Regions from separate parts of the Homo sapiens genome. Here regions 1 and 2 are each linked to region 3. The links come from fine-mapping of genetic effects on gene expression. A gene starts in region 3. Each other region holds a variant in brackets. All regions are shown on one strand. Distances are between the middles of the regions.

Evidence for each region.
Region 1: its variant is fine-mapped to the expression of RAB11FIP5 in memory regulatory T cells (Schmiedel 2018, PIP 0.95).
Region 2: its variant is fine-mapped to the expression of RAB11FIP5 in whole blood (INTERVAL, PIP 0.98).

Annotation. Positions count from the first base shown.
Region 1 is chr2:72,219,318-72,229,547 of GRCh38, forward strand. The region is part of intron 20 of EXOC6B (exocyst complex component 6B); the gene reads right to left. Among named protein-coding and RNA genes, the nearest start is that of CYP26B1, 77 kb to the left of the region's middle. The variant C/CTG (reference allele first, on the strand shown) is at 5,481.
Region 2 is chr2:73,087,709-73,097,938 of GRCh38, forward strand. RAB11FIP5 (RAB11 family interacting protein 5) reads right to left here. Exons shown (of 6, transcript NM_001371272.1): 2 at 1,171-1,607; 3 at 342-1,041. Among named protein-coding and RNA genes, the nearest start is that of RAB11FIP5, 20 kb to the right of the region's middle. The variant T/G (reference allele first, on the strand shown) is at 4,276.
Region 3 is chr2:73,106,748-73,116,977 of GRCh38, forward strand. RAB11FIP5 (RAB11 family interacting protein 5) reads right to left here and starts at 6,201. Exons shown (of 6, transcript NM_001371272.1): 1 at 5,600-6,201. The coding sequence starts at 6,030. RefSeq lists silencers at 4,809-5,052, 6,210-6,299, 6,370-6,529.

The DNA.
Region 1 (10,230 bases), 890 kb before region 3:
ATGATCATTACCAGATCTGGGACACAGACCAATGGTTTGGACAGCAGAATCCAGCTACTAAAGACTTCTCTGCTCTCAAATTTTAAGCCCCTCTCTCCATGCTGCAATACTGCTTGAGTTCATACAATAAGTCTTATGTCAAGATTAGCAGTTTATAGTATTGTCATTCTAGTCTTGAGGACTCACAATTTTACCTCTTTCATTTTTTCTCCTCCTAGCATTCCTCACTCTTTAAATATTTAGTTTATTATTCTTTGTTTTCCTTCTCTTCCCTACTCTATCTAACCTAAGCTAAGTCAAACAGGAAGAGGAAGGAATTAGTGTTGTTAGAGGGTCAGCCATAGGTTTTCTCTTTTCATTTTTTTCTGCTCTGGCCTCAAACAAGTAGCACTCCCTAAATATGAAATAATGAGGCTGCAGCATCCTTCTGCCTTAATCCATCACCTAATTATAACTATCATTATAGCACTTTCAGTTTGCCTCATTTTATTTTCACAATCTTTTTTTTGTAATTGGTAGTACAAAGATCATTAGTATCCCATGTATTTATGAAAAACTAAGGCTCAGATTGGTTAAGTGATTTGTGCTGATGGAGACACAGTTGAAGACGGGTCCATGTACCATGAAGTTACTGGGGACCTGACTCACGGTACAGCCTCCGGTAAGTCACTTAACCTTTTTGTGACTAATCTCCAAAATGGGGATGAAAGTATCAACTTACTTCTCAGGGAAGCTGCAGAGATTAAGTAGCCAATAAACAATTGTAAAGGGATTTGGAAATTTCAAATACTACATAAATGTTTTAATAAGCTTTTAATGTTAAGGCTCCACTAGGTATCCATAGATGGAAATCAGGTGAATTTATCTGCTGGCATTCGTATTTTCCAGGGCCTGAAGAAAGTGGATTGAGCTCGTTTAAGGACTATACTCCATTCTTTCTTAATTGCTTCTAGGTGCTGGCCCTGCTACTTGCAAGTCCTATCTCTGCTGCCCCTCCCCCAGTTGAGCCCAAGCAGATGTGTTGCTCTCTAGAATCTGGCCAAGGCAACTAGAAAATACAGGAAGGAGGGCTGCCTCCTCATGCCCCCTGGGGGCAGCAGAGATGATCACAAGCAGACTCCTATCATTAGCCCTAGAAACCTTCCAGATGGGCACTCTGACCTCCAAGAAAACATCCCTAATAATTTGCAGGGCATTCAAAGAAAGTACTGTGTGGTTCTGGCCACTAAAAAGTGATCTAGGCTTGTATTTCGGATCTTCAGGCTATATATTTCATCCCTTCAATGAAATTCACTTAACTTGTTTTATAACAAGCTTATTATATTGCATAGGGAAATTCGTGACAACATCATATCAAAGAAAATATTTGAAATCAATTTACTTTATAAGAAAAAAAATCTCTAAAGAACGATGAAGACAAACTGTGCACGATACACTACTGCTGTACTAACCTCAAACATTGTACCCTGGGTAATGTTGTTCAGTTTTGTGACTCTAAAGACATTTATTTCCTTATTAATTTTTTTAATTGAGGTATAATAGGTGTACATAGTTTAGGGGTACAGGTGATAATTTAATACATTCACATACTTTGTAAACACCAAATCAGTTTACTTAGGATATCCATCACCTTAAATATTTGTCTTTTCTGTGTGCTAGAAACATTCAAGTTATTCTCTCTAGCTATTTTGAAACGCACAATAGATTACTGTAAACCATAGTCACTCTACTGATCTGTTGAACGCTAGGTCTTATTTCTTCTATCAAACCATGTATTTGTAGCCATTAGTCAACTTCTCTTCATCCTTCTCCCACACCCTAGTTAGTTCCCATTTCTTTTCTGAGACTTACTTTTCCAATCTGTAAAACAAACACAATGGCTTCTGTCAAAAATCTGCCTCAAATGAAAGTCACTTTAAGCCAGGATTGACATTCAGTTGGTACAACGAGTTTCTACTTGTGAAAAATAAGACTAAAGGACTCTACGTTAGTTACTAAATTTAAAAATGCCAGTAAATTTTAAATGATAAACCATGGCTCTCCCACTGCCTGCAAAGCTATTCTCACAGATATCCGCCTATTTCATCTCCCTCAAGGCACTGTCATCTCTCACCTCAATCAGGCCTACTCTGACTACAGTATTTAACACTGCAACCTGTCCTCCCAAATCCCCATACTCTCCAATCCCTTTCCCTTTTTCTGCTTTCTAATTCCTTCTACAGCACTTATTTACAACTACAACTACAGAATCTATTATTTATGCTTATTATTTATCTATTTCCTTACTCGTCTACCCTAAACTGTAAACTCCATGAGGTCAGGAATCTCAGCCTGTTTTGTTCATTGATGTATCTCAAGTGCCTGGGACATAGCAGATGTTTAGCAAACATATGGTGAATAAGTGAATGAATGAATAATCCTCTAAGAATAATTAACTTTTAAATTACCCAGGGGTAGAACTAATTTCTTCTGAATTGTCACTATACTCAGCTCAGGGTTTGGGCCCAGAAGATATTTAAAATCATGTTCTATTTGATTGACGTTATATCTGAAAATCATAAATACTCTGTGACTAAATTCTTTTATCTGTCTTCTCTTTGGTTTGGGGAAACTCTTATGAATTAGCCAGCCAATTAACAGCATCAAGATGAGGAGGTGAAACTGGGTAAGGGCAAGGGAGATGAAGGAAAAGGTGAAAGATGACTGAGCAGAGATCCAGAAGTATTGAGAAATGGCCAGTGAACTCACCATGATAAGTCAGTAAGAGCTTCATGGAGAATTCACTAATGGAATAGCCAGGGAAGATGGGGACTCTTTTAAACATGTACAACTTCTGTTCTGTTTTTTGCTGGATCCCACTACCTGGTGTGTTCTAGGTACTTGAATAGTGAGTCCTAGAAGATATAGGGAATACTATGACTGCCACTCTACACTGCTCTAGGAAAATGCAATGTGTGGAAAAGTTCAAAGGGTTGGCTCTGTGTCCACAATTGATCGCAAAAGGCTTTCTACAGGAAAGGTGGGCCTTAAAGTATGGGGGAAAATGTTTTTTGTGTAGACCACAAGAACAAGTATATAATGATTATATTTTTATAGGCAGAGCCAAAGGCAAGGGACAGTTTATTCAAGAAGCTTCTTAATCATTTTAAAATACAAAAACCTTGTATATTTGAGTGTCACTGTATCTAGTTATTGATAATCTCAAAAACAAATAAAATGCCCTGGACTAGAAGCTAAGCTGATTATCAGCTGGAGAGAGCACATAACCTTTCTTCTTATGATACATACAGTGTCTCATAATTGTGTCCTTATGGGGTACAAGTATATTCCTCAGGAAATATCTGGTACTAGGCTGTTTTAGAGATAGGTCATGCAGCTGGTGGGCTACATGGGTCATTTTTGTGGAAAATATTATTATTATTGCACAATGAGCTGTGTATCTCATTTAATGCATCACCAGCATTTCAAATAACTTATCACAAGCTACTTTGAACCCTAACTGGGCAGAGGGAACTCTCCTGCTAGGCATCTCACATATTCATTATCCTTCAGTAACTAAAGCAATAAGGTGAGGCTGACGGCTAAGGCACTGAGGAGGTACTTTTATGTAAGGGTTTGCAATATACTCACTCTCTCTTCACAGATTAGTGGTTATATATGTGAGTCACTAGCACTGAAAATGTGTAGCAGCAATAGCATCTGTGTTCAGTATGTCTCTAAGATTCATCTTCTCTGATCTATACCCCTGCCTCCATCCTATGCCAAAAACCACAGCTGCCTGTTCCTTGGTCACCAGGCTCTGCTCTAATTCGTTGAAAATGTAGAAGGAGCCCAACAGGCAGATAAAGGTATGAGGGTTAACTGATTTCAATAGCTAACAGTCACTGAGAGACCACTACTCAGAAAATACAGTGGAAAAACAAAACAACAAAACACAAAGACTCATTCAGCTTGTTTTAAATCGGACCATACACACTTAGACTTTGGGAAAGTGAGTAAACCACCAAGTTATGAGTGCAGTGTATAAAAGATAAAAATCTGAGTTATCCCTTTGTGGTTACAGATTATGAAACCATTTCAGGCTCTCCCTAGACAGTATTCCTGATGAATAGTAGATTGCAAACAGAGCAAGCCAGAAGGGTTAGCATCTCTGATTACTATCCTGTTAAGATTTTTTCCCAAGCATCCTTGTATAGTTTAAAATTAAATTTTTTGCCTTTGTAATCTGTAGCCTTTGTGTATATATCATCTAATGAAAAGGGCTTTTTTGAATTAAAATGGTGTTTGGAAAAAGAACATGTGTTTCTGATTTACTATTAAATACATTTATAAAGACAGAAGGCTCTCAGACCTAGTGAAGGCCTGTTTTTTGTTTGTTTGTTTGTTTGTTTGTTTGTTTTAAAGCAAGAGTCCTGTAACACTTCAGGAGGACAGAATCCCTAATGCAAACACTCAGATGGACTGGGGCATAAGTTTTTGGGTAGAGAGTAATTGTGGAGCCTAGGAATTCAGATTTGTCTTGTCTGACCACCTTAGGGGTAAACACACTGCTCTGTCTTTTCCCAGCTAGTTGGTGAACTTGGCATCTATTAAACAGGACATTTTGGAATACAGGCGATTCCAATTATCACAATGGTCTTATGTTTCAAGGCTGTTTGTTTATAAACACAGCCACTTTCTGTTTAATTTCTCTCCTATTTTGGTTTATTTAAGCTCCAATTTTTTTCCAGCACCTAAACGAGGATTTTTGAGATTTATGCCTGGCCAGTATGCATTAAATTAATAAAAGGTATTAGAAATGTATGTTATATAAACATCTAGTTTGCATTTGCTAGTAATCAGGGAAATAGGCAACAAAGCAATGAGAAGTTGCTATTTTACACCTAACGATTAGCAAATAAATTAAAAATATTAACTCCTCTGCAAGGTTTTGGTAAAATCAGCATACTCCTCCACTGCAAATAGCACGATGACAAATCATTTTGAAAGAAATATTACCTTATCTCTTGTGAATCACAAAATATTTCTACCCCCTACCACAACGATTTCACTCATAAACATTTACCTGAAGGGAATCATCTACTAGACTAAAAATGCTATATGTACAAAGATACATACTACTCAATTCTCAGGAAAAAAATTTAAAAATAAAATCAACAGTACAAAATTGGAAACACACTAAATAAATGGATTTCAAGTAGGGTACAAGTACTCTTTCATTGGAAGGATGTACATCAGAATCTTCTTGGAGAGAAAAGGAGGAAGGAACAAATAAATATATGTGTAGTTTCAAAAAGCATATTGAGAATTATCACTGCTCTTATTTATTTGAGACAAAGTCTCGCTCTGTTGCCCAGGCTGGAGTGCAGTGGTGCAATCTCCACTCACTGCAGCCTCAACCTCCTGTGCTCAAGTGATCCTCCCACCTCAGTCTCCCAAGCAGCTGGGACTACAGATGCATGCTGCCACGTCCAGCTAAT[C/CTG]TGTGTGTGTGTGTGTGTGTGTGCGTGTGTGTATGTGTGTATGTGTGTGTATATATATATATGTATACGTAAGTGTATATATATATATACATCTATGTGTGTATATATATAGATGTGTATATATGTGTATATATATGTCTGTGTATACATATATTTCTGTATGTGTATATACATCTCTCTCTGTATGTGTGTGTGTGTATATATATATAAATACACATACTTTTTTTTTTTTTTAGTAGAGATGGGGTTTCGCCATGTTGTCCAGGTTGGTCTCAAACTCCTGGGCTGAAGTGATGCATCCACTGTGGCCTCCCAAAGTGCTGGGATTATAGGCATGAGGCACCGCGCCCAGCCTATTTTATTTTAGACATCAAACTGCTTTATTTTATAATTTGAAATAATACTACATAGGATATCATATTTTTATGTTCATTAAAAGAAGTATAAGAAAGTTTGAGAAATGGCAATATAAATATCAATAACAAGTCTAACAACAGTCAGAAAATTATAACAAAACAACAATGACAAATTAATGCTTACTGAGCACTTGATGTGTCAGGTATTGGGCTAAGTTCTTTGCAGACATTATTCTTTATTAAATTTTCATATTTCTAGGTGAAAGAGTTGTTGACACATTTGACACTGAATTAAAAAATCATTATTGGAATGAGATAGTGACATAAATATTCCTTTAGTGGCCCTAGAGGACAGGGAGGATCCGAGGCTTGGGTTTACAAGCCTACGTGGAGACTGTGAGACAATTACTTAGACTTGTCTATGGAGCAAGGTTAGAATTAAGACTTCTGTGTGAAGACAGGGCTCTTCAAGAGCTGAACCTTGGTGAAAGGGTAGACCAGAAAACAAATCTACCCCTTGGTATAGGGAGATGATAAGGAAACCTTTTTATCATGGCATACTAAAGTAAAATACAGTTTTACATTTTTCACCCCCTATCCCTATTCATTTAACTATATATTGGGCATTATTTCTTATCCATATATAAAGCACCTCTTTATTAGTATCCTATTAAACAACTATAAAAAATGACACAGTGAATAATTTGGTAAATGCATGTAAGTATATAAATCTGTAGGACTGAGTCCCTGGAGTGGAGCTGCTGGATCAAAAGACATGCACATCAAATTCCCTCCTCAGAAGTTGTATCCATTTATAGTACTACAGCAACAACCGCGTATGTGACTCTCTCGCCACACCCTAAGAAACAGTGTGTTGGTAACTTCTAAAAGACTAGAAATCGAATGTAAAACCCCTTTTAAAAGAATAGAAAGAGAATGTAAAACAACCATTTGCTGGAAAAAGAGGGGAAAGGGGATTTAAAAAACAATCAAATAGAAGACAGAGAGACTAAGGAGATATGATGATTGAATGCAACGAGGTATCCTCAACTGGGTCTTAAAACAGAAAAATGGCATTAGTAGAAAAACTAATGAAATTCAAATAAAGTCTACAGTTTAGTTAATAGTAATATATCATTGTTAATTTCTTGTTGTGACAAATGTTTCACTGTAATAAAAAACAGATGTTAACATTAGGAGAAACTGAGTAAGGGCACACAGGCACTCTTAAATACTGTCTTTGCAACTTTTCTGTAAATCTAAAATTATTCCCCCAAAAGTTTATTTAAAAAAACAGAGCGAAAAAGACAAGGCTATCCCAGCAGGGGAGGAGGCAGTAGAAGGAAAGACATGAAGGAAGAAAATAGCACCATCCACACAAGGAACTACAGGGCAGTTTGGTGTTGCTGGAAAGTAAAGTTGTACTCTTAATGTGTAAGTTGTTTCATTATTCCATTTTCCCTGCCATTCCCTTTAAAAATCTAGGTTTACTTAGGTTGTCATGTTTTACAGAAAAAGTGTGAATTTAGGTTTTATGTTCACTTTGACTAGGTCATAATGTCATTACCAAAGCACTCTCATTCTGGCAGCACTTATGAAGGGACTAACTTCGCTCATTAAGTCAGTAGACCTGGCACATCAGTGAATTGGTTTTCAAGGTACAGTATGTGAACAGCCAAGTGGTGATTATTATATATATTTGACATCTCTGTCAGTCAATTAAATAATGTCAAAAGCAAAAACAAGTGTTTTAAGATTTGGGAATCTGCCCTCTTAACCAGAAGCAAATTTGTTAGATAGGTAGGAAGCAATGGAATTGACAACCACTATATAAAACCAAAAGAATTATATCTGCATTCCATACATTCATAGCTGTAATGCTAACATTTTAAAACCAAAATATAAAAAATAAAAGATAACAAAACAAGAGAAGCAAATAAAAGGTATGATAAATAGCACAATAAGATGTTAAAAAGGAAAATATGACAGCAATGATCTAAATTCATCAGTTAAAAGATAGAGGTTCTCAGATTGTATTAATAAGCAAATCCAACTATATGCTGCCTATAAGAGATAAATTTAAAATATGAGGATGCAGAAAGTTCAAAGTCAAGCAATGGAAAAACACATACTGAGCAAGTACTGAAAAGGAAAACCGGTCCAGTAAAAACTATCAGGTGAAAAAGCATTAATAGGAATAAAAAGGGTCACTACACACTAGTAAAAGAATAATTCACCAAGAAGACATAAAATTTCTAAACTTGTACATAACCAATAACATAGTCTGAAAACACACAAATACACAAAGTGAAAACTGAAACTATTATAAGGGTAAACTGATATACCATAATCACAGAGGGAGATTTTAGCACCTTCTTTCAGTAACGGATAAAAGAAGATTTTTAAAAATTAGTAAAAATGTAGTAGATTTGAAGAGCACAACTGATATGTTTTATCCACTGGATATGTAACATTGCATTCATTTACCAGAGAATACACATTCTTTCAAGGATCCATGGAGCATTTACAAATATTGGCCACAAAGATGCTATAAAGCAAACCTTAATAAATACCACATTCTTTTAATCACTGAAATAAAATTATAAATAAATAACTTAAATCTATATGTCTTCTTTTTAACAAGAGTCTTTCCCTAGGATGTTTATAATTTTACTCAACTTAGCAAAACAACTTTGTAGTGTAAAAACAAAACTAAGGAGGTGATAGCTTTATTTTAGTGTTACACAACTAATGTGGCTTCCTAATGTTATTCACCAGGCCAAGAAGAGTATTGATGATGGAGGAAGAGTGATTGCAAAGATAAAATGATATGAAAGGGCAAGGAATTTGGGGGAAGGTATGATTGAAGTATAGATGAGAGAGAAAAAGTAGAAAAGGCTGTTAAAGTAGATTGGAGTCAGGAAGTTCGGATTTTACCAGGAGAAGGATGTTTGGTTTTGGTCATTTAGGCAAAGGGAAGCGATCAAAAGTGTCTAAGTATGGGGCTGATGAGGTATGGTAGGACATGGAGTTGACATCACTTGATAATGCACCTTATGTCCAGGGAAATGAGTAAAATGGGAGAAAAAGAAGAATCAAGAATAAATCTCAGGTTTCTTTTTTTTTATTATACTTTAAGTTTTAGGGTACATGTGCACAACGTGCAGGTTTGTTACATATGTATACATGTGCCATGTTGGTGTGCTGCACCCATTAACTCGTCATTTAACATTAGGTATATCTCCTAATGCTATCCCTCCCCCCTCCCCTCACCCCACAATAGGCCCCAGTGTGTGATGTTCCCCTTCCTGTGTCCACGTGTTCTCATTGTTCAATTCCCACCTATGAGTGAGAACATGCGGTGTTTGGTTTTTTCCTTGCGATAGTTTGCTGAGAATGATGGTTTCCAGCTTCATCCATGTCCCTACAAAGGACATGAACTCATCATTTTTTATGGCTGCATAGTATTCCATGGTGTATATGTGCCATATTTTCTTAATCCAGTCTAACATTGTTGGACATTTGGCTTGGTTCCAAGTCTTTGCTATTGTGAATAGTGCTGCAATAAACATACGTGTGTATGTGTCTTTATAGCAGCATGATTTATAATCCTTTGGGTATATACCCAGTAATGGGATGGCTGGGTCCAATGGTATTTCTAGTTCTAGATCCCTGAGGAATCGCCACACTGACTTCCACAATGGTTGAACCAGTTTACAGTCCCACCAACAGTGTAAAAGTGTTCCTATTTCTCCACATCCTCTCCAGCACCTGTTGTTTCCTGACTTTTTAATGATCGCTATTCTAATTGGTGTGAGATGGTATCTCATTGTGGTTTTGATTTGCATTTCTCTGATGGCCAGTGATAGTGAGCATTTTTTCATGTGTCTTTTGGCTGCATAAATGTCTTCTTTTGAGAAGTGTCTGTTCATATCCTTCACCCACTTTTTGATGGGGTTGTTTGTTTTTTTCTTGTAAATTTGTTTCAAATAAATCTCAGGTTTCTTAGTATGAGTGACTGATTGAGTAGTGATGCCTTTAATGGGGAGGAGGAAAAGAGAAAAATGGTAAAGCAGGTAGAAGAGGAGAAAAAGTAACACATGGAGTTCAGGATATACTACATTTGAAATAGGGAGACGTCGTTAAGATCTAACTCCAACAGTGATGGGAGCATTTACGAAGATTACGAAGCAAAGAGAAGCAGGCGGAGATTAGGAGTTAGAAAATTCAAGTTGCCTGAAATTGAGCAAAGCAGGGTCATGTTACCATTTGCTTTAAAGCTACACTCTTTATGACAACAGGACAAGTTTAGTGCAACAATTTATGGTTCTAACAATAAGCAAGACACCTCTTTCCAGACCTGAAAGAAGCCAGGTATTATCAGAGGGAGACAG
Region 2 (10,230 bases), 19 kb before region 3:
GGTGGAGGTCAGGAAGCAAAGAATTCACACAAATGGACTTTCCTGCTTCCCTCCAGCTCAGGGGGTGGGCATGCCAACTCATGCAGCAAGGCCTAGGGCTGAGAAGTCGGACCCCTCAATCCATAGGACTCTCAGAGCACTATGCCCTCGTAACTCACCTGTGTCCGTGAGCACAGAACGAACCTTGGCTTAGGGAGACACCCCACTAAACCATGCAAAGCCAGAGCCCCAGCAGCCTGCCTGAGGTCCATATCTACTCCTTCCTCCCTGCCCCAGGGTCCAGGCAGCACACACCCCAGCATCCTCCCCAAGGAGCAAAGTTGGTCTTGCCAACGACTTACCTGGGTTTCTGAGTCGGGTCCTTGGCTTCTCTCAAGCCAAACCAGCTACTCTTGGCCTTTTCCTCCCCACTGGATGAGTGATGTGGGGAGGCCCCCAGGATGGGACCCCCCTTTTCCCCCAGAGAGCTTCGGCGACCCAACTCGCTCCGACTTAGGCCTTGGTGGTGGTGGTGGAAGAGACCCATCCGGGGCTTGCGTTCCTCCTTCCGGGCTCCCTCCTTCTCTGCCACAGCCTCAGAGGAGGCCACTATGGGTGTGGCAACCTGGACTGGCTTGCCCTCTGGTAGCCGGGCCCCCTCCTCCTCTCCAGGGTGGCTGGCCCCAGGGGCCAGGACTTTAGCCTGAGCACTCAGCTCCTCCTGTCCAAGCACTGCCTCTGAGCTGCTGTTGCTACGACTGCCTCTGGGCCAGGTGTCATCTGTGGAACGAGGCCCCTCCTCGGAGAACCGGGAAGAGACAGCTTGCAAGGAGCCAGAGGATGGAAGCGAGCCCGAGATGGAGCTGCGGTGCCGCACAGGGCCCTGGGGCTCCTCATTGTAAATGTGGCTCCCATTGACACAGAGCGAAGAGCGGGAGGCAGCATCCAGGTGGCCCTGAAGGTCCAGAAGGGCCCGAGGAGGAGCCACTCGCATCTGGTTGGCCTCATCGCTGTAGGTCCTCTTATGGGTGAACAGCTTGGGGGACTGTGCAGAGTCCCTGCCTGCAGGGGAAACACACAGAGTTAGCTCGCAGGAAGAGAGGCCCCATTTCCTGGCCCCAGGCCTTCATCACCACCCAAGGGGAGAGCCAGTGCCCCCCTCCCCAGGGCGGCGGCCCTGTGCTTGCTCACCCCCTTCAGTGGACAGCCAGCTGCTACGGCTTGGTGAGCGGGTGAGGAGTTCGGCGCCAGGTCCCTGGTAGGCCAAGCTCCCGCTGGCTGAGGACAGGGTGCTGTCCGAGCCCAGCGAGGTGTTGGACTGGGTCAGGGACGACTTGCGCAGCTTGTTGCGGAGGAAGAAGCCTTTGGCTTTGCCCATCTTGCCCAGGCTGCCCAGGTCAGGATCCTCTATGGCGCTGCTTGGGAGGATGGCAGAGGCAGATTCCAGATCATACTTCTTCTTGCCCTTCATCTTGTCCCTGATCTTGCTGAAGGGAGACCTTGGCTTGTCCTTCATGGACAGGTCAAACATACTGGCGCTCAGGTTGTTGCGCGTGAACTGGATGGTGACTTCAATCTCGCCGCGTTCCTTCTCCTTCTTGCCTGGCTTGGAGTGCAGCTTGTACCACCTGTGAGAAGAGGGGAGCAGGCAGAACTCAGTCACGGGCCCAGGGAGCCTGGCTCCCGCCCGGTACCAGGCACTGCCCAGACCCCTCCTTGCTCTGAGAGCCACTGATAGCCTCTCCCCAAAGGCTCCTGCTCTGACCCATCGGCCTGGGCTTCCAGGCTTCAGATGCAGCTGAGAAACTATCCAAAACATTTCCATGATGGAGAAAACCACATCCTGAGTGGGGAAGCTCCTCGGGTGCCACCAGGTAGGGCGGCGGTTACCACACCATGCCTCCTCCCACCCCAGGACCTTCTCCTGGTGCTCAGAGACCTCTCCTCTGCCCCATCTCCCCTACATCTGAAACTCTGAGGCCCAGAGGGGTGAGGCTGGGCCTGGGAGAGCCCTCCCATCTCCAGGCCCCAGCACAGACAGACCTACCCACATTTCTCCCTGTTGACATCATCTCCTCTGGCCAGTCCCAGCCAAAGCTCTGCTCCCAGCCACCGTGAGCCCAGGAAAGAACAGCTCACCCAGAGGCCCAGGGCCAGGAACACAGGAATGCTAGTGCATACACTCATGTATGTATACACACACACACACACACACACACACACACACACCTCACTCACACACTGACTCACCCCAAGCCCTGTCAGGAATACCTCTACAAGATGCAGGAACAGACAAGAATGGCAGAAAGAGACCCAGGAAAGACGAAGAGCGCTCATATCTGTTGAGCATCTATGGTGCATTACGACCAGCATGAGGGTTCTTACCTCACTCCCGCACATACCTCCCAAAAAGCATATGAGGTAAGAGGTACTACCCCATTGTACAGATCAGGAGGGTGAGGCTCAGTGGTAAAGGAACCCATCCGTGGAGACTCAGAGCCAGGTGTCCAGCCCTCCAAAGCTTAAGTTCTTCCCGGTGCACACCCACTGTGCCCAGAGAGACACAGAGACAGCCCCCAACACACATGGCCACCACACAGGGTGGCTGGGGCCCGCCCTACTGGGGAGAGATGTTCTTATGCAGGGGTTGGCAGTTTCTTAGAGAACTAAGCAAACTCCGATCACACAAGGAGCAATCACACTTCTTGGTACTTTGCCTACTGAGGTAAAGACTTATGTCCAAAGAAACACCCTGCACACAAATGTTTATAGCAGCTCTGTTCATGATTGCCAAAACTTGGAAGCTGCCAAGGTGTCCTCCAGTAGGTGAAAAGATAAGCAAACTGTGGTACATCCAGACAATGGAATACTACTTAATGATAAAAATAAATAGGCTATCAAGCCATGAACAGACACGGATGGATCTTACATACATAAGTGAAAGAAGACAATCTGAAAAGGCTTCATGCTTGCACGACAAAACTATTTGACATTCTGCAAAAGGCAAAACTATGGAGACAGTGAAAAGATCAGTGGTTGCTGGGGGATTGAAGAGAGGACAGAGCGATGAATAGGCAGAGCACAGGGACTTCTCAGGAGAGAAAAACTATCCTGCATGCTACCGTAATGGTGGACATGCATTGTTATACACCCACAGAATGCACAAAACAGCAAGTGAACCCTAACATAATGTATAGACTCTAGTTAACAATGACGTGTTGATATTGGCTCTCAAATACAACAAACATGCCACACTAATGCAAGATGTTAACAGAAGAAATGGCGGTGGGGGCGTGGGTGGAGTAGATGGGAACTCTCTATACTTTTCACTCGTTTTTCTGTAAACTTAAAACTGCTCTGAAAAATAGACTTTATTAACTAAAAAAAAGAGAGCAGGGAACACAAAAAGGAAGAAACTATGAAGGAAATCATACAAGAATGTTTTTCTGAACTGAAGAACATGAATGCTAGAACAGTCCTACAAGTATGCAGCGCAATGAACTAAGACAGACACATGCCAACAGATATGACTATGAGGCTTAGAACACCAGGCATGAAAGGATTCGAACAGCACTGGAGTCTTCCTTAGCAACACTGGGCACCACATGAAGGAATGTCTTCACATTTCTGAGGGAAAAGCCTTCCACTAGCCTGGAATTCCAGACCCAGCCAATCGAGCATGAAGGTGGAATAAAGCCCGGTGGTAGTGGTCAGGCTGGTCACTAAAGGGCTCAAAGTCCCTTGGTGACTGCACAGCACACACACACATACACACACACACACACGCACACAGAGCTACCCAAGCCGCAGTCAGTGATGCAGGATCCACCTCCCGCCTGAGCTCTGCCCCCAACAATGCCAGCTCCCTGAGCTTCTGGTGGACACAGAGTGGGGTGTGGGGAGCCTTTGTATGAAAAGTCCCTATACATCCAAAGATCCAGAATTAAGTCACAGCAAAAGCTTGGTGGTAGTGGTGGTAGTATTTTGATTATTTTTTAATGTTGAAGTTTTTTTAAAAAGGCTTCCTGGGGCACCTCTGACTCTTCTACATCCCTATAGAAGAGCCCATCATGACGAAATCCTGGTGGGCTATGGCCCGTCCCCTCCGTGGAGACCTACTCCGCAGCCTGAGCGGCCTGAGCCTAGACTTTGGTTTTCCCTCCCAAACCTGAGAGACAATCCCCTGAGAAGGCCGGGTAGGAACAGATGGTGCCACAGGCAGGGCGGACAGAGAAAATGCCCGAGCGGGTGCCTCTCTCATAAGGCACGGGCAGAAGTGAGGGGAGGAGAGGCTAA[T/G]TGAGACAGACAGACTGGAGGATGTATGTGAGGGTGTCTGTGGGGCAGGAGAGGAAGTTTGACAGAAAGACCAGCCAGCAGCATCAACAGCCTCACACCTCTACGTTCTCAGCCCAGTGACCACCGTGGGCCTGACCCTTTACCTATTTAGAGGCCAAGCCCTAGTCACTTTCCCTAAATCTGGGCTAGGCCCTATCTAGCACAGGAAAGTCCTGGGAGGTAGGGCAAAAGAGAAGGGTATGGACTCCAGCCCCAAACCGCCCAAGCCCTGAGTAACTAGGATCAGCAAGCACAGCCAGCCTTTGCTGGGGCAGACAGGTCAGGGGCCCTCAGCCCCAGCTACTCACACTGCACACACCACAGCGGTAATGCAATTACCTGAGGGGACCGGGGCCCTGTGGTGAGATTGCAGGGAACTAGCACTTCCTACATTGTCTATTTTTGTCCTATTTGAATGTTTTATAAGGAGCATATATTACTGTGGTAATAGGAAAAAGAGACAAGGGAAAGCTCTTGCTCCTATCTCATCTCAGCTTCCTGAGCCACAAAATGGGCCGTGCTCCTCTGCCTCCCAGCCCTCAGAGGAAGGCGGGAGGCCGAGTTTCAGGTCCTTTGCCACAAGGACCTTTTGGGCCTCTCTCCCCTATAAGGTCACTTCCCCTTCTCCTGTTCTGCCCAGCCCTCCCCCACAGGGAATTTGGGTTTCTCCCTGGACTTGTTTTTCAAGGAAGCACGGAAGGAAAAAGAAAAAGCTTCCCTGAATATTTTTTAGGCTCTCCCATCCAGAGCACAGTGAAATGGAGAATGGCCAGGACCTACCTCTGGACCCCAGCTGCCATCACTCGTCCACCTCCCTTCCAGCCCCACCTCCCTCTGCAACCCAGTCAAGGGCAGGACTGAATGGGATACTGCCTGGCACCTTGGCCACCCTGGGCACCCCAGGGACTCAACCAGAGCAGACCTTCTCCCAGAAGTATGGCCTACATGAGCTGAGATGGCCACATCCTCCCCCTCCCTAGAGGTGCTACTTCCCTGTGCCTGGACCAGACAGCCCCACAGACCTGTCGGGCACCATGGAGGTCCACTGGAGAATGGAAAACTATGAACACTGTCGAGGGGGGCTGAGGAATCCGCAATGAAAACAAATGGAGGCTTTCTTTTCACAGAGCCCCACACGCAGCAGAGCAAATGGGCTCTGAGCACCTCATCCCTAGAGACTGAAGCCCCCACGGGGAATATGACAGCAGGGTCCTATGACCTAGTTCAAGTCCCACTCCTCTGGGAAGCTCCCTCAGCTGCCACCATCCTGCTGGCCTGGCCCAGTCCCTCCTCTTTCTGACCAGGCATACACACTCTGAACCAAACTCACTCTACAGCCAGATCTGGCAGCACCGTGCCCCAGGACCCCCTGGTGTTGTCATGTCCTGGGCACCCAAGGTCTCCCTTGCTGGACTGTGTTTCTTGTGGATATTGACTGAGTATCCCCTGGGGCACACAGCTCCAAAGTAAAGAAATCATGCATGCACAGTCTGGAGCTGTTACAACCCTGCAGGGCCCTCTCTCAGCTCTCATCTGGATGCGCCTGACAGCAGGGCATGGTGGTGAGTGCTGGGTCCCCCACTGACCAGGTCACCTCCCTCAGCCTCCGCTTCCTTGGCCCTCAGGTGGGGACAACCATCCTCTTGGCTGTTGGGAGGCTAAGGCACGCCAAGCCTGGTTGGCAAAACCAGCTTATCCTCTCACTCTCTCCCACGACCGTGAGCTCTTAGGACTCCTGCTCTTGAATCCCTGACGCCGATCGCTCTGCCTAGCCTTCAAGGGAACGTGCCAGATCCTTTAATAAATATTCAACCTCGGACGCGCATGGTGGCTCATGCCTGCAATCCCAGCACTTTGGGAGGCCAAGGCGGGCAGATCACTTGAGGCCAGGAGTTTGAGACCTGCCTGGCCAACATGGCGAAACCCCGTGTCTACTAAAAATACAATAATTAGCTGGGTGTGGTGGCACACGTTTGTAATCTGAGCTGCTCGGGAAGCTGAGGCATGAGAATCACTTGAACCTGGGAAGCGGAAGTTGCAGTGAGCCAAGATTATATCACTGCACTCCAGCCTGGGCAACAGAGTGAGACTTTGTCTCAAAAAAAAAAAAAAAAAAAAAAAAATCCAACCTCAACTTCCCAAGTCTGGCTGTGCAAGAGATAGGCCCTGGTCTCCAGTTTTGGAGATTCTGCTACTGTTCCTTCCTCCCTACCTGATCAAGGTTTTTTCTCCCTCTCTGTGCCCTTCACCAGGCCTAGCTGACTGGGGCACTGGGCTTAGGAACTCCAAAGCCCAAGCTGAGGCCTGACCTGTCACTTTCATCCAGGGCAGAGACATGGCCAAAATCAATCAGGGTGTGACCAAGGCCCCAACATTCATCTAGACAATGGCTCACAAGACAGCTCTCATTTTCACAGCTCCACAGCTGTAGCACCCAAACCTGCTATGCATCGGTGCAGGATTTATATACAGATATAAATCCACCCAAGACGCCACCCAGACTTACTGAACTAGAAGGTCCCGGCCTGGTTATCTATATTTCTCAGTGGGTTTGGGGGTGGGGCCCCACAGGTGAGTGAATTCACCCAGACCCCATGTGGGAACCACAAGGATGGTCCCTAACGCTTTACATCACTTTAAGGTCAGCGGCCACCTGGGCTCTCCACCTGGGCTTGTCCTTAAGGACACTCAATCGGTACCCAGGAGAAACCTGTGTCTTTCTCCTGCCCAGTAAGGCTTGCCTTCCCAAGTCCCGAGGACACGCTGCTTCTGAGAGGACTGACCCTAGAAATACTCATCCCTCCCCCAGGAGGGGGTAAGTTACCAAAGGAACACACTGGGGAGGAGCAGGCAGCATTAAGCACTTTCTAGAAATTAAGAGTGTTAAGATGAATTAGGCCTCCTAGATCAGAAACCACTGGAGAAACAACACTCTCACCAAACCAGGAGGAAGGACAGTGATTCTGCCCCCATACAATTCCCCTGACACCCACCTGGTGCTCAGAGTCCGGGCTGCCTGCAGCACATATATCACTAACTGGCACATCCTTCACTGCAGGAACTAAGCTGCTCCACCTGCAAAGCACCCACCTTGACTTCATCTCTCTGTCAGGGGCACCATCTGGGGCACTTGAACTCTCCAAGGCCCAGCCAGCACATGCTCAGGACACAAGGGTTTTGATGAAGATGGTGATTATCTGGGACTTGTCCCAGGTGCCTCTGCAGCCAGGACATGATGGACACAGTAAGAAAAGGCACAGTAAGAGAAAATTCCTTGCACCTGAAGAGGCACACGCAGCTACTGATGCTGCTCTTCAGAAGACACACATCAGTGCTTCTCAAACTGCAAAGTGCAAAAAAAAATCACTGGATCTTGTTAAAATGTGTATTCTGATACCCAAAGTGTAGGTGGACCTGAGAGAGCTCCCAGCTACCCATGCTGCTGCTGGCCCAGAGGCCACACCTGAGCAGAGGGCTGCACATGAGGGGGCTAGAGAATGGCCAGAGCTGACCCTGCTGAGGGCTCACTGTGTGCCTGGCTCTGCAGCTCTTTTATTATCCATGCAACCAGCCCAGGAGATGGGAGGCCCATTTTACAGATGAGGAAACTAAGTTGTGGAGATGGTTTGTAAGTTGCCCAGGGCCACACAGCTAGTAAGTAATGGAGCTGGAACTTGAACATGAAAATGCCAGCCTCCAAGCCCATGTCCTTAACCTTTAAGGTTTAGCAACTTTCAGAAAAGCAGAATGCATATACTCCTGCCCTGAGTACCCTGAGAAGACAGAGGCCAGTAAAGGCCTGGCTACACATCACAGACCCTGAAGACCAGACCCCCTTTCAAAAGGTTGGCACAATCCCAGAGCACAGAGCCCTGAGATGCCACTGAGGGGACCTCAGGGTTTTGTCCTGTCCTTAGCCCCTCAAAACCTTGTCCGAGAGCAGCCCAGCCTCCCTCAGAAGCCATCAGGGTCCAGAATTCCTGAGAGGCTGGGACCACAAGGAAGCTCTTACAGGGCCCCCTGCTAAGCTAGAACACCTCTCCCAAGCTCTCTCTGCCTGACAAAGTTCACCAGGCCCCGTGTGGACTTGGGTCTCGGCCCTCAGCCTCCCCCCACCCACCACCAAAGCAGAGGACAAAGTGGATGGAAGGGGTGGAGAGGAGCAAGTCTGCTCACCTGTCACCAAGATTACAGCCCTAGTTACTCCTGCTGGTGGGGTCCCCAGGCCCTCATAACCAGCTCTCCACCTAGTTCTCAGAAAATGAAGCTGGGCTAACCAATGCCATCCAGCATAACTGGGGAGGTCCTGCACTCAGGGGAGAGCTGACCTGGGGCAGCTGTCACACATACCCATGCAAGTGCCAGGGAACTCCAGTCAGAGACAGACAGGGGTGTGGGGGCTATGGGTAGCTGCAGCAGCAGGCCTGGACACATCTAACTCACCCCCAATTCTTATCAGTCTAAAATTCAGACCCAAATAACAATGCCCCTTTCTGAGCCCCCACTCATCATTTATTCCAGACTCCAAACAACCTAGAAACCAGATTTGTCTCTTCTTTTCCCTCACTCCCTACATCTAAACTTCAAACTCTGTGAACTCTACCTGCAATTATCTCCAGAACTCACTCTCTCACCACTGTCACCCCATAGTCCCATCCACCACCACCTCCCTGATGGACATTAGATTTCCCTGTTTACCTGACGTCCACATTCCACCCAGCAAAGACGTGAAGTGGGAGCTCAGCACGCCCCGCTCTCCCTCACTCAGCACCTTTTGGGGCTTGGCTCCTCTGCATCTCTCATTCCACTTGGGCCACAGTGATTCTCCTGGTGTCCCTGAACCCATCAGGTGTGTTCCCACCTCAAGGCCACTATACGTGCTGCTCTCTCTGCCTGAGACACAGGCCAGACCTTCTGGCCATGGTTCACTCACTCATTCGAGTTAGGGCTCTGTTCATCCAAGCCTCCTCAGTCTTCCCTGAGTACCCCAACTGCAACCACCCCTCACCCTCTTTATGTTTTTATTTTATTTTGAGATGGGGTTTCACTCTTGTTGCCCAGGCTGGAGCGCAATGGCTCGATCTCAGCTCACTGCAACCTCCACCCCCAGGTCCAAGCGATTCTCCTGCCTCAGCCACCTGAGTAGCTGGGATTACAGGCATGTGCCACCCCGCCTGGCTAATTTTGTATTTTTAGTAGAGACGGGGTTTTTCCATGTTGGTCACACTGGTCTCGAATTCCCGACCTCAGGTGATCCACCCGCCTCGGCCTCCCAAAGTGCTGAGATTACAGGCGTGAGCCACCACGCCCGGCCCCCCTCACCCTCTTTCATCATCATACTGATCACAAGCTGGCACTGGTGTGTGCACACGCATGTGTCCCCATGTGCACATCAACATGACAAAATGCTGCACATGTTCAAGGCTTGTTAGCATCTGTCTTCCCTTGCTCAACAGTCAAGTGCATTATTCTGTTCATCTCTGTACCCCCAACACTTAACAGTGGACACTCAAATATTTGCTCAATGAGCCAACAAATTATTCTGTGACTAACGTGGGCCCCCTTCACAACTGCTCTATGGTTTTCTACTGCTACAAACCCATGGGTCTTACTTGTGAGAGCTGGAGCTCCCAAAGAGCAAAGAGGATCCCCACCCCACCTGCCAAACAGGAGCCTTTGGAGGGCAGGAGCCAGAGATGTCAGGCTTAAAGGGAGGTTTCCAGAATGAGACCTTCTTTAATTGTGAGACACTTCCTCAGCCCCCAACTGAACTAAGAATCTCACTAACTTCCCTGGGAGAGAAGATGCCCAACCAGATGTGGGACGCATCCAGCTTTGTGAACAGAGGAGTCACTGTTGACCCAACTCCAGCCCATCTCTTGGCCCAAAAAGGCCACTGATCTTATCCCCATTACC
Region 3 (10,230 bases):
CTGGGTAGTGAGAGTGTGCAGCTCTCCCTCTGCAAACCCCAGTTTCCTTGTCTGAGCTCTCTTCCAGCTCCCATGCTGGAGTCCCATGAGTAAGGGCTGTGCTCCCTTCTCCACTACCAGGTGAACCAAAGGTCACAGTGGCCTGTGATACCCCCTCCCCACCCTGCAGCTTCTCGGAGGTGCTGGCTGCCCCTGGGAGCCCCGTTTTGGGAGGCCCCACTTACTGCTCCTGAGAGGCCGGGGCCCAGCTCCATACAGAGGCCTCATGTGGCCAGCCAAGTCCCTCTCCTCTCTGGCCACCATTGTTCCCAAGGTAGAAATAACCTCAGGCCAGCTCAGTAAGGGCACTGTGATCAGACTCTTCCCTGAAGGGACTGCCAGGTGCACAGCAGACTCACATGTGGACTCATTTTTATTACTTGGCTGTGGGGAAGAACAAAACTGCTTCATGGCTACACTATTTTGCAAAGGAAAGAAAAAGAGGACTGCTTCCCCTGGAGCAGAGCCACAACAGCTTCTGTTCTTGTATTCATCATCTGTCCCTGCGTAGGGTGAGAAGGGCAGGAGAACATCTGGACAAGGCCAGGCCAGTGGTTTAGACAAGAGCGTCACAGCACTGAGGTGGCAGCAGTGACAAGTGGGGCGGGCAGCTCCCAGCAGAGAAGGACAGCCCTCAAGGTCACCGGGATGTGGCTCTGCTGAGCTGTGCCTTGCAGCCAGCTGCCTACAAGGAGAGACAGGTGGGGCAGAGATGGGGCTGACCACAGGCCCCTTGAAACTCCCTGGTCCCAGCCAGGGCTCAGGGCCAGGGGCAGATGGGGAGGGCAGGGGAAGCTGCCAGGCCAGAGAGGAGGAGCTGCCCAGCCTGACTGAGGAGTCACACTTCCTACCCCGCCCCACACCCCAAGACGCTGCTGCTCAAGCAACCCCAAATAAAAACCACCCCATAACTAAGGGCCGTGGAGCCTCGGCATACCAACGACTGGCTTCTGAGTGCAGCCACACCCTTCCTCTGCAGCCAGAGTAGACCTCCCCAGCAGTGCCACAGGCCTCCCATGCCAGCTCTGGGGCCGAGCAGGAGCCAAGGCCAGGGGCTCAAGTGACCACAGCTGTTTCCCGAGGGGCAGAGTCACACCCAGAAGCCAACAGAGAGAAGGCTGTGGGGTCACGCACCATCTGCCCACCAACTGTCTGCCCAGGCTGTCTGTGGGCTACGGGATAGATGGAAGCCCTCAAAGACCATCCCAGCCTTAGGCTAATGGGATGCATGTCCCCTCAGGTGCCTCCCAGTGCCCCCAAACCCACCCACCTAAGGAGGTCTCAGAACACCATGACCAGCCAGGCAGAAGGCTCTCATCTCAGACCTACATCTTTCACAGCCTCAGCTCTCCGAGCTCCCTTGCCAAGTGGCACAGTCTAAGCAGGGGCTGAACGGAGCCTCTTGCAGGCCACAATTCATGGTCACAACAGTTTTAGTCTTTGTGATGAAAAAAGACAAACTGATCCCAACCCAAGCTGAACCCACAGCCTTTGCTTTCCCAAGAGGCCAGCTTCTAACCATTGATCCAACAGGCCCAGGATGACGATCCTGTCTGCCACACTCCAGGCCTTACCGCAGGGACCATTTCACCCTTATCAGGATGAGGGAGAAGGTGGACAGGGGCTCCATATAACACAGTTGTGCTCTCTCCTCCTCTCCTAAAACACACAAAGACCAGCATTCCAGGGGGCAAAGACCAGGTCTCCCCAACCAAAATGGCCTTGTGGCAGATGCCCTGTCTTCTTACTCCAAAACCTTTGCTGCTGCTTCCTTCCTTCCCTCTTCTGATATATCCAGGTCCATTCCCTGGGGGTGTGATCCACACCAATCGCATAAAGACCAAAAAGGTCCAAATGACCCATCTGACCCCACAGGGAACAAGGAAAACTAACTAACCACCACATCCCATCCCTGTCTTGGGAGTTAGGGAGGCAAACACAGGACACCCACTGGGGAGTGCTAAGAAGGACGTTGGGCCAGGCGTGGTGGCTCATGCCTGTAATCCCAGCACTTTGGGAGGCCAAGACAGGTGGATCACCTGAGGTCAGGAGTTTGAGAACAGCCTGGCCAACATGGCAAAACCCAGTCTCTACTAAAAATACAAAAATTAGCTGGGTGTGGTGGCACATGCCTGTAATCCCAGCTACTCAGGGGACTGAGGCAGGAGAATCGCTTGAACCTGGGAGGGAGAGATTGCAAGTGAGCCCAGATTCTGCCACTGCACTCCAACTTGGGCAACAGAGTGAGACACTGTCTCAAAAAAGAAAAAAAAAAGGATGTTGAAGATAAAAACCAGAAAATAAATCGCAGAGAAGCATCCAGGATTTCCAGACCAACAGGAACATGACGATCCATGGACAGTTCTACTGAGGGTGGGGAGATCATTAGTTTCCTTGTGTACTACCATTACATTTTGTTTTGAGAATATCCTCTTCAATTATTTGGAAGCCTCTGGTGAAATTCCTCATTTCAAAGACTGCCCCACTCACACAAGACCTTCGGAGGCTGCTGAAGCACCTACAACCCCAGCCACCACCATCACACAAAATGGGGCCCCAGAGTCACCACCACGCTAATATTTTGAGAGCTTCTATGTATCCAGAACTACATTAAGGCTTTTACAGATGGTGTCTTATCTAATCTGTACAACTCTATGATTATTATCATGACCTTTTTCAAAGTGAGGAAGTGGGATAAGTAACCTGTCTGCTGGTAAGTCACAGAACGGGGAGTGAAATCCCAGTCTCCAGGTTTTTAAGCCCTGGGCCATCCTTCCTTCCCAACAGGGCAGGGGCAGCTCCAGGCAGGGCTGCCAGGGAGGAGAGCTGCAGAGCTGCGGGCTTATCTGAGCCTGGTTTCAGGACTGCAGAGGCCTCTCAAGCCCAGCCCTATTTCTTGGGCCTCTTGCAGCAAATAGAATACAGAGAGCTGCAAAGGGCCAGCTCATTTTGTTGGGAACTCTCGTACTCTTCTGTGTACTCCGTCACCCATGGTCCTAAGGCTTTCCTAGGCTCTAAGTTCTAGACTGTCTCCCCCATCCCATAAGAAGCTCTTCCAGACATTGTTACTAAAATCTCCCTTCACCATCACTGCTCTGCACTGACCACCTACCATGTACAGGGACTGTACTAGGTGCTTAAGCTGCATTTTCATTTCATCCCTCACATCAACCATATGAAGGTATAAATTATCTCCATTTTACAGACGTGAAAACTGAGGCACCAAGAGTTTATATGACTTGCCACAGGTGGCAGTTTTGGGACTGGGATCTGTCCAGTGCCACTCTGTAGCCCCTTCCTAACCATAAGGGTACCTTCCCCAGTCAGGTCCTCTCTTGGCAAAGGGCCACCACCTGCCCTACCTGAGACCACCACAGCCAACTCCTGGAGTTAAAGAATGGATACTTTTCATTTCCACCATTATCCAAAGCTGAGGAGGGTACACCCTGGTCTTCTCTGCCTTGCCCTCTCCCTACCAGGCAGCGTTCAGACTCAGTCTTGGTAGCCCACACCAGGGTGCTCCAGGAAATACCACCAGGAATGACCACTACAGCCAGAGGTGGGGACCACAGCGGGGGTGACAGCCCTCCCCCTCTGTCAGTGGGCATGCTGTTAGGTCCAGTAAACTAGAGCACCAGGCCAACTTCACAGACTTTCCTCTGCCCATCCTAAGTGACCCTCCCCACTCCTGTTCCCCCCCCGGTTCTATAAATAAACCAGGTTGTTGCATCAGAGAAAACAGCCAGGTGGGTGTGGAAAGATCCTGGTGGAAAAGATGATTTCTATAAAATAAATTAAGGTTCCCATTCAGATCAAGGGGTGGTAAGTCAAATTCTCCAAGACAGGCTGTTCTTGGCTGAAAATGGGTCCACCTGGACCTACAAGCTTGGCCAGCTCAGCTAAGGAAGATCCAGAGGCCAAGAGGAAAGCAAGGGCAGGAACTGGAAAAAACAATCAAAGAAGCTGCTCCCTGCAGGCCTGGAGCCTTTTTTTGGTCTGCCTCCTCCTGTTCCCCCAGCACCCCCTGAACAGATGTGTCATCTAACAGTCTGGTCAGAGTAGCTGATTGGTGGAGGGTGAAGGACTGGGGGAAGGGGTGGAATGATTTGGGGGATAGGCACCTCTTCTGAAAAAGAATGGGCTAAGAGATCCAGGAGAGAGCTTTTCGCCCCATATACCCACCCCCTTGGGCTCCAGGAACCAGGAAGGAGGGAGAGGACAGAAAGGAGGAAAAAAACAAGGTCCAAGCTATATACCACATGATCCCACACCCTGCCACCAAACAGCAAGTCATGAAGGAAGGCGGGGAGCAGGCCAGGGGATGGGGAAATGGAGTCAGGTCACAGCCATGCCTGGAACCTGCACTAACGCCCTCCCCATCCCAGACCACAGAGAGCCAGCCAGGAAAGTCATTCCACACCCATGTTTCAGAAAACATTCAAGGTCAGATCCTTTTTACCTAAATCCTGCTTTCATTTGGGTTTGCACCAGGCTCATCCCCCTCCTCCAGCAAGCCTTCCTGGATTTATTCACTCAGTGGATGCCATTCCACTGGGGCAAACCTTTCCGGCACCTCTCCTGACCTAAGGCACAGTCCTGCCCCAATCCCCTTACCCTCCTACCCAGATCACTCCCAAGTTAACCACTTGAGTGATCCACAGCAGGCTGTCAGCCCCGGGGACTGGCTTCCAGCTCCTGCCCAAGCCCAAAACAGGAAATGGGGCTCCAAGGCTGAAGCCTTGATCTTAACACAGGCAAGGTTAAATGCTGCCAAAATAAATGATTTAAAAAAACCCTGGCCCACTGAGGTGGAAGTGACCGGGAGATAATCTCCTGCTGTTCATTAACCATGCCGCTGCCTCTACCTCAGGCAGGGCAGGGCAGGCAGGCAGGCCACTGGAAGGCTGACTCAAGTGTTTCCTTCCTTAACTTAGAAGCTCCTCCTATCCTCAGACCAGGGACACAGGACACAGAGGGACAGGATGGGGGTGGGGGGGTGACATCTCTAGATAGTGGAGGGCATCTTGAGAGCAAGAGGCAGATGCCCCCTGCAGCCAGCTTCTACGTTTAGCGGGGTAATCAACATTCAACCTCGCCCTGGAGGAAGACACCTGGCTTTCCTTCCCCCGTAGGGCAAGGCTGCGCCTCTCCACTCCCCTGCCGGACAGGCGCCCGCAGTTCCCCTCCCCTTTGAGGAAAGGGAGGCAGGCCCGGAGGTTCTAAGAACGGCCCCAAGATTTCCCTTCTTGAGGTTTCCATAGCCCCAAAGCCTCTGAATCTCATTCCTAACTTTACTTGACAATCTACTCCTAACGTTCGCCACCACTTAAACCTCCCCCAGGCCTCCCAGGGACCACCAGTGGCTGAGCCCCACACAGCGCACGTTTGGGAAGCTTGAAGACGACCCCGAAATGCGAAGAACCAACGTTTCTGTCGGTTTACGCCCTTAAGCACGAGGCAAGGGCTCACTGGCCCGGCTGAAGTTCGGGGTCCTGATCCCCCACCAGCCCCGCCCTGTTAGGCCTTTAGCCGTTTCTGTGCCCCCGCGCCCCCTACTCACTGCGTGTGCTGGGCGCGGCCTGCGCCGAAGACCTCGTCCAGCGCCACCGTGGCCTGGCCCAGGAACTTGTCGACGCCGATGAGCGAGCGGTGCATGGTGGTGAGCACCAGCTCGCAGGCGGCGGCGGAGCTCGCGGCCCAGGGCGCCGGGCCCGCGTCGGCCTCCTGCGCCCGCAGCAGGCCATCCAGGGCCCCCGGCGGCAGCTCGAAGGAGCACTCCTCACGCCACTCGGGGCAGCCGTGCGTCTTCTCCACCACCGACGTACTGTACTTCTCGCGGCCCACCTGGATCACCGTGTACGCGTCGCTGGTGCTGCCCGCTCCCGAGCTCTTGCCCCGCAGCCCGCGGGCCCGCAGCACCGTCACCTGGACGTGCGTGGGCAGCCAGCGGGAAGGCCCCGCCGCCGGCTCCGCGCCCCGCACCAGGGCCATGGCGGAGAAGCGGGGGGCGAGGTCTGGCCGAGCCGGTGCAGACCCCAGGACCTGGTGACAAACCCGGCCGCGGCAGAAGGCGGTCAGGAACCAACTCTGAGCGCCGCCGCAGCTGCGGGCTGGGCTGGGCCGGGCCGACCGGCCGCCGCCTCCCCGCCTCACCGGGCCGCTGGCCGCGGGCCGCGCCGCGACGTCAGCGCCCCGCCCCCTGCCCCGCCCCGCGCCCGCCGCCCCAACCGGCGAGGCGGTGCGACAGGGATGCGGGCACGCAGCTCGCGCCCCGGCAGCCGCAGACCAGCCCGGAGCGGGAAGGGGCGGTGCGCGGCCTCTGCAGAGGGTGGGCGGAGTTCCCGCGGTGGCCCCGCCCCTGGCTGGGGGCGCCCGAAGCAACCCGGCCTCGCTTGTGGGGAGCCCTACACCCGCGGCCAGGTACGAAAAACCCGCTCTGCGCCTCCAGGCCAATCCCACGTCTTCCTTCTAAAAGTCCCTGCTCCGGAAAGCCCTCTCCGTAAAAGGGTCCCGGCCCGCAGTTCCTGGGATGGCCAGCCTCTTGGCGCGGACTTGGGGTGATGGGGACCCCCGCCGCTCCCCTGACCCCGGGCCGCGCTCTCCCCTCCTCCAGTCCGCCCCTGCGGGGGAAAATGCCGGAGTGAAACTGGAGCGATTGCCGCCCCGCCACGTGACGGTCCCGCATCGGCGACCTGGAAGCGGGTGAGCTGCCGCCGCCTCCAATCTCTCCCGGCGCAGGGGGCCGGGATGCGGCCATGCGGCGGCGCGGGAGGCCCGAGAGCGGGGCTCACCCTCCTCAGACTCTGCGGCGGAGAGCCGAGTGATGAATAAATGAGTAACCACATCAATATTTAAGTGTTCACTCGGAGCCTTGGGGCCAGTGTGTCACGGGTTGGGGGAAATTACAGGCCCTGGTGGGGGGTTAAATAACTACTTCCACCCATTATTAAGTGCCTACTGTGTGCCAGGGCCTAAGTATTAACGTATACTTGGTTTATTATTGATAATAACGATGTTTAGTAATTATAGATGCTGAATTTCAGCCAACTCTGGTCAGTGCGCTTTTATATGCATTACCTCATTTTATCCTCAGAGCAACTCTGTGGGGTGAGTATGGCTTTTATCCCTATTTTCCAGAAGATAAAATGTCAGCTCAGATGGGGGAGGGTTGTGAATCCACTAGATGCCCCCAGAGCGTTTTTTTTTTTTTTAACTTTCAGAGCCTGTACTTTTAAAATAATAATTTAAAAATAATACACACAGCTTTTTTAAAAAAATCAAATAGGACAGAATGGCTTGCAATGAAAAGCAAGAACTCCCTCTCCATCCTTCAATCCAGGGATGCTGCTTAAAGCCACTGGTGTTTTCAGGTCTGATGGTTACCTCCACATCACTACATTAAGATGCTCACATAGCTACATCTGCATTTATCAGGACTGGCCACTGTCTGTTGCCTTCCTCCTATGATAGATAATGATTTAGCTGGCTCACACCCACTTCCATCCCTCAATCTTGTGTAGTTATGCTATTATTTTTAGTTCCTCTATAGCAGGGGTCCCCAACCCTTGGGCCACAGACTGGTAACCCTCCATGTCCTGTTAGGAACTGGGCTGCACAGTAGGAGGTGAGTGGTGGTAGGGGCTAGCTGGTGAAACTTCATCTGTATTTACAGCCGCTTCCTATCGCATTACCGCCTGAGCTCCACCTCCTGTCAGATCAGCTGTGGCATTAAATTCTCCTAGGAGCACAAACCCTATTGTGAACTGTGCATGCGAGGGATCTAGGTTGCATACTCCTTATGAGAATCTAATGCCTGATGATCTGTCACTGTCTCCCATCCCCAGATGGGACCATCTGGTTGCAGGAAAACAAGGTCAGGGCTCCCACTGATTCTACATTATGGTGAGTCATATAATTGCTTCATTATATATTACAATGTAATGATAAGAGAAATAAAGTGCACAGTAAATGTAATGCACTTGAATCATCCTGAAACCATCCCTGCCACCCTCAGTCTGTGGAAACTTACATTTTGGTCCCTGGTGTCAAAAAGGTGGGGAACCAGTGCTCTATAGGATACCCAACAGGAGAAACATGTATTTCTTCTTAGGGAGACTCCACAGTACCCCTCAACTGTCCACCTTCCAGGCCATGTCCTCTACTGGGAATATGAACCTAGGAAACCAGTAGAGTAGGCAGAGGAGACCCATGATAGCACACCCAGCACAGGCCCAGTCCTCACAGCCTCCCACCTTAACTCTTCCATCAGAAGACTGGAGTGGGGAAGTCCTAGGCACCAGCCCCATGGTCCAGCAACCCTGACGATAGCACCTAGCTTTAGAGACAGCCAGATCTGCCTACAGATATTGGCCATCTGCCTCTTAGTAGCTATGAAACCTGAAGTTTAAGCCAACTCTCTAACCTCTCTTGGCCTTATTTCTCCATTTGGATAATGGGATAATGATTCTTACCTCAAGCCAGGCGGAGTGGCTCACACCTGTAATCCCAGCACTTTAGGAGGCCCAGGCTGGTGGATCACTTGAAGCCAGGAGTTCAAGACCAGCCTGGGCAACATGGTGAAACCCCACCTCTACTACAAAGACAAAAAATTCCCCTGGCGTGGTGGTGGGCACCTGTAGTCCCAGCTACTTGGGAGGCTGAGGCACAAGGATCACTTGAACCTGGGAGGCAGAGGTTGCAGTGAGCCAAGATTGTGCTGCTACACTCCAGCCTGGGCGACAGAATGAGACTTTGTCTCAAAAAAATAAAAAATGGGGCCAGGCCTGGTGGCTCATGCCTGTAATCCCAGCACTTTGGGAGGCCGAGGCGGATGGATCACTTGAGGTCAGGAGTTCCAGACCTGCCTGACCAACATAGTGAAACCCCGTCTCTTCTGAAACTATGAAAATTAGCAGGGCATGGTGGGGCACACCTGTAATCCCAGCTACTCAGGAGGCTGAGGCACAAGAATCACTTGAACCTGGGAGACAGAGGTTGCAGTTAGCCAACATCGCACCACTGCACTCCAGCCTGTGCAACAGAGTGAGACTCTCTCTCAAAAAAAGAAAAAATGGAAATAAATCATAACGCAACCATCCATAAATAAACACTGTTAATAATTTGTTGTGTTTCTTTCTAGTCTTTATACTGTATGTGTTTGTTTTATATACATTATGGTTTTTGAGACATCTAAAGTATAATTATTAAATCTGTGGGCTTTGGAGTCCTGGTTCTACCATTACTTTATATATATTATCACTCTTGGCTATAAGTCTGTATACTAAAGAAAAAGTATATACATATAATACTTACACACACACACACACACACACACATAGTCATGTTTAACCCTGAAGATAACCATTTAAAGCAAGTGCTACCCTTGGTTTCACTGATGAGGAAACAGAAGCAGGAAGAGCTTGGGTGATTTTCCCCAAGTCTCCAACCGGAAAATTGTAGAGACTGAGTGGCTCTACTGGCTGTGGTACTCTGCTCTCACACCAGCTTGTTGGTCAGCCAAGCACTAGATCCATTTAAAGTCAATAAAGAAGGAAGTGTTCTCATACCCATTTTACAGACGAAGATTGAGGCAACCAAGGTTACAAGAGTCAGGATGAACCTCCCACTTTAAGAGTGAATTCTTCAAGGACTTTGCAAGTGACGATATCATCACTAAACTTCAACTAACATAAATGTGTCACTCCTTCAGCGGGTCTGTTTCATCTGTTTGCCTGTTCTCCAACGTTACTGCTCCTACCTCCTCCCTCCCTCCTCCTCCGCCAAGGAGGAGCAAAGCACCAGGAAAGGGGAAAAGGTGGAGAGCACTCAGATGGCTCCTCTGCCTCACCTGCCCTCTGGCTCTCTTTCCTCCTGCCTTGGCCCTCACAGATTGGCAAGCTCAAGCTTCCTGCTGGCTCTGGACTGTGGCTGGCTATAGGAGGGGAACGAAACCAGCCAGGGCTCCCACCCCACGTTGCCTGGCCCTAGAAGGAAAAGCCAGGTCTGCTAGCTGTCTGTGGTTGAGAAAAGAGCAGAAACACCAGATACTGAGGTCTTGGCCATCTAAAGGTGTGTTTCCTCCTCTATAAGATGAGATCCCCCCCACTCCCTGCAGCAGCCTGCATAAGAGTTAGACAAGAAGACCCCAAAAGCATCAGTTTCCTCTGCCTCCCCAGGGCTGGGTGTCCTCAC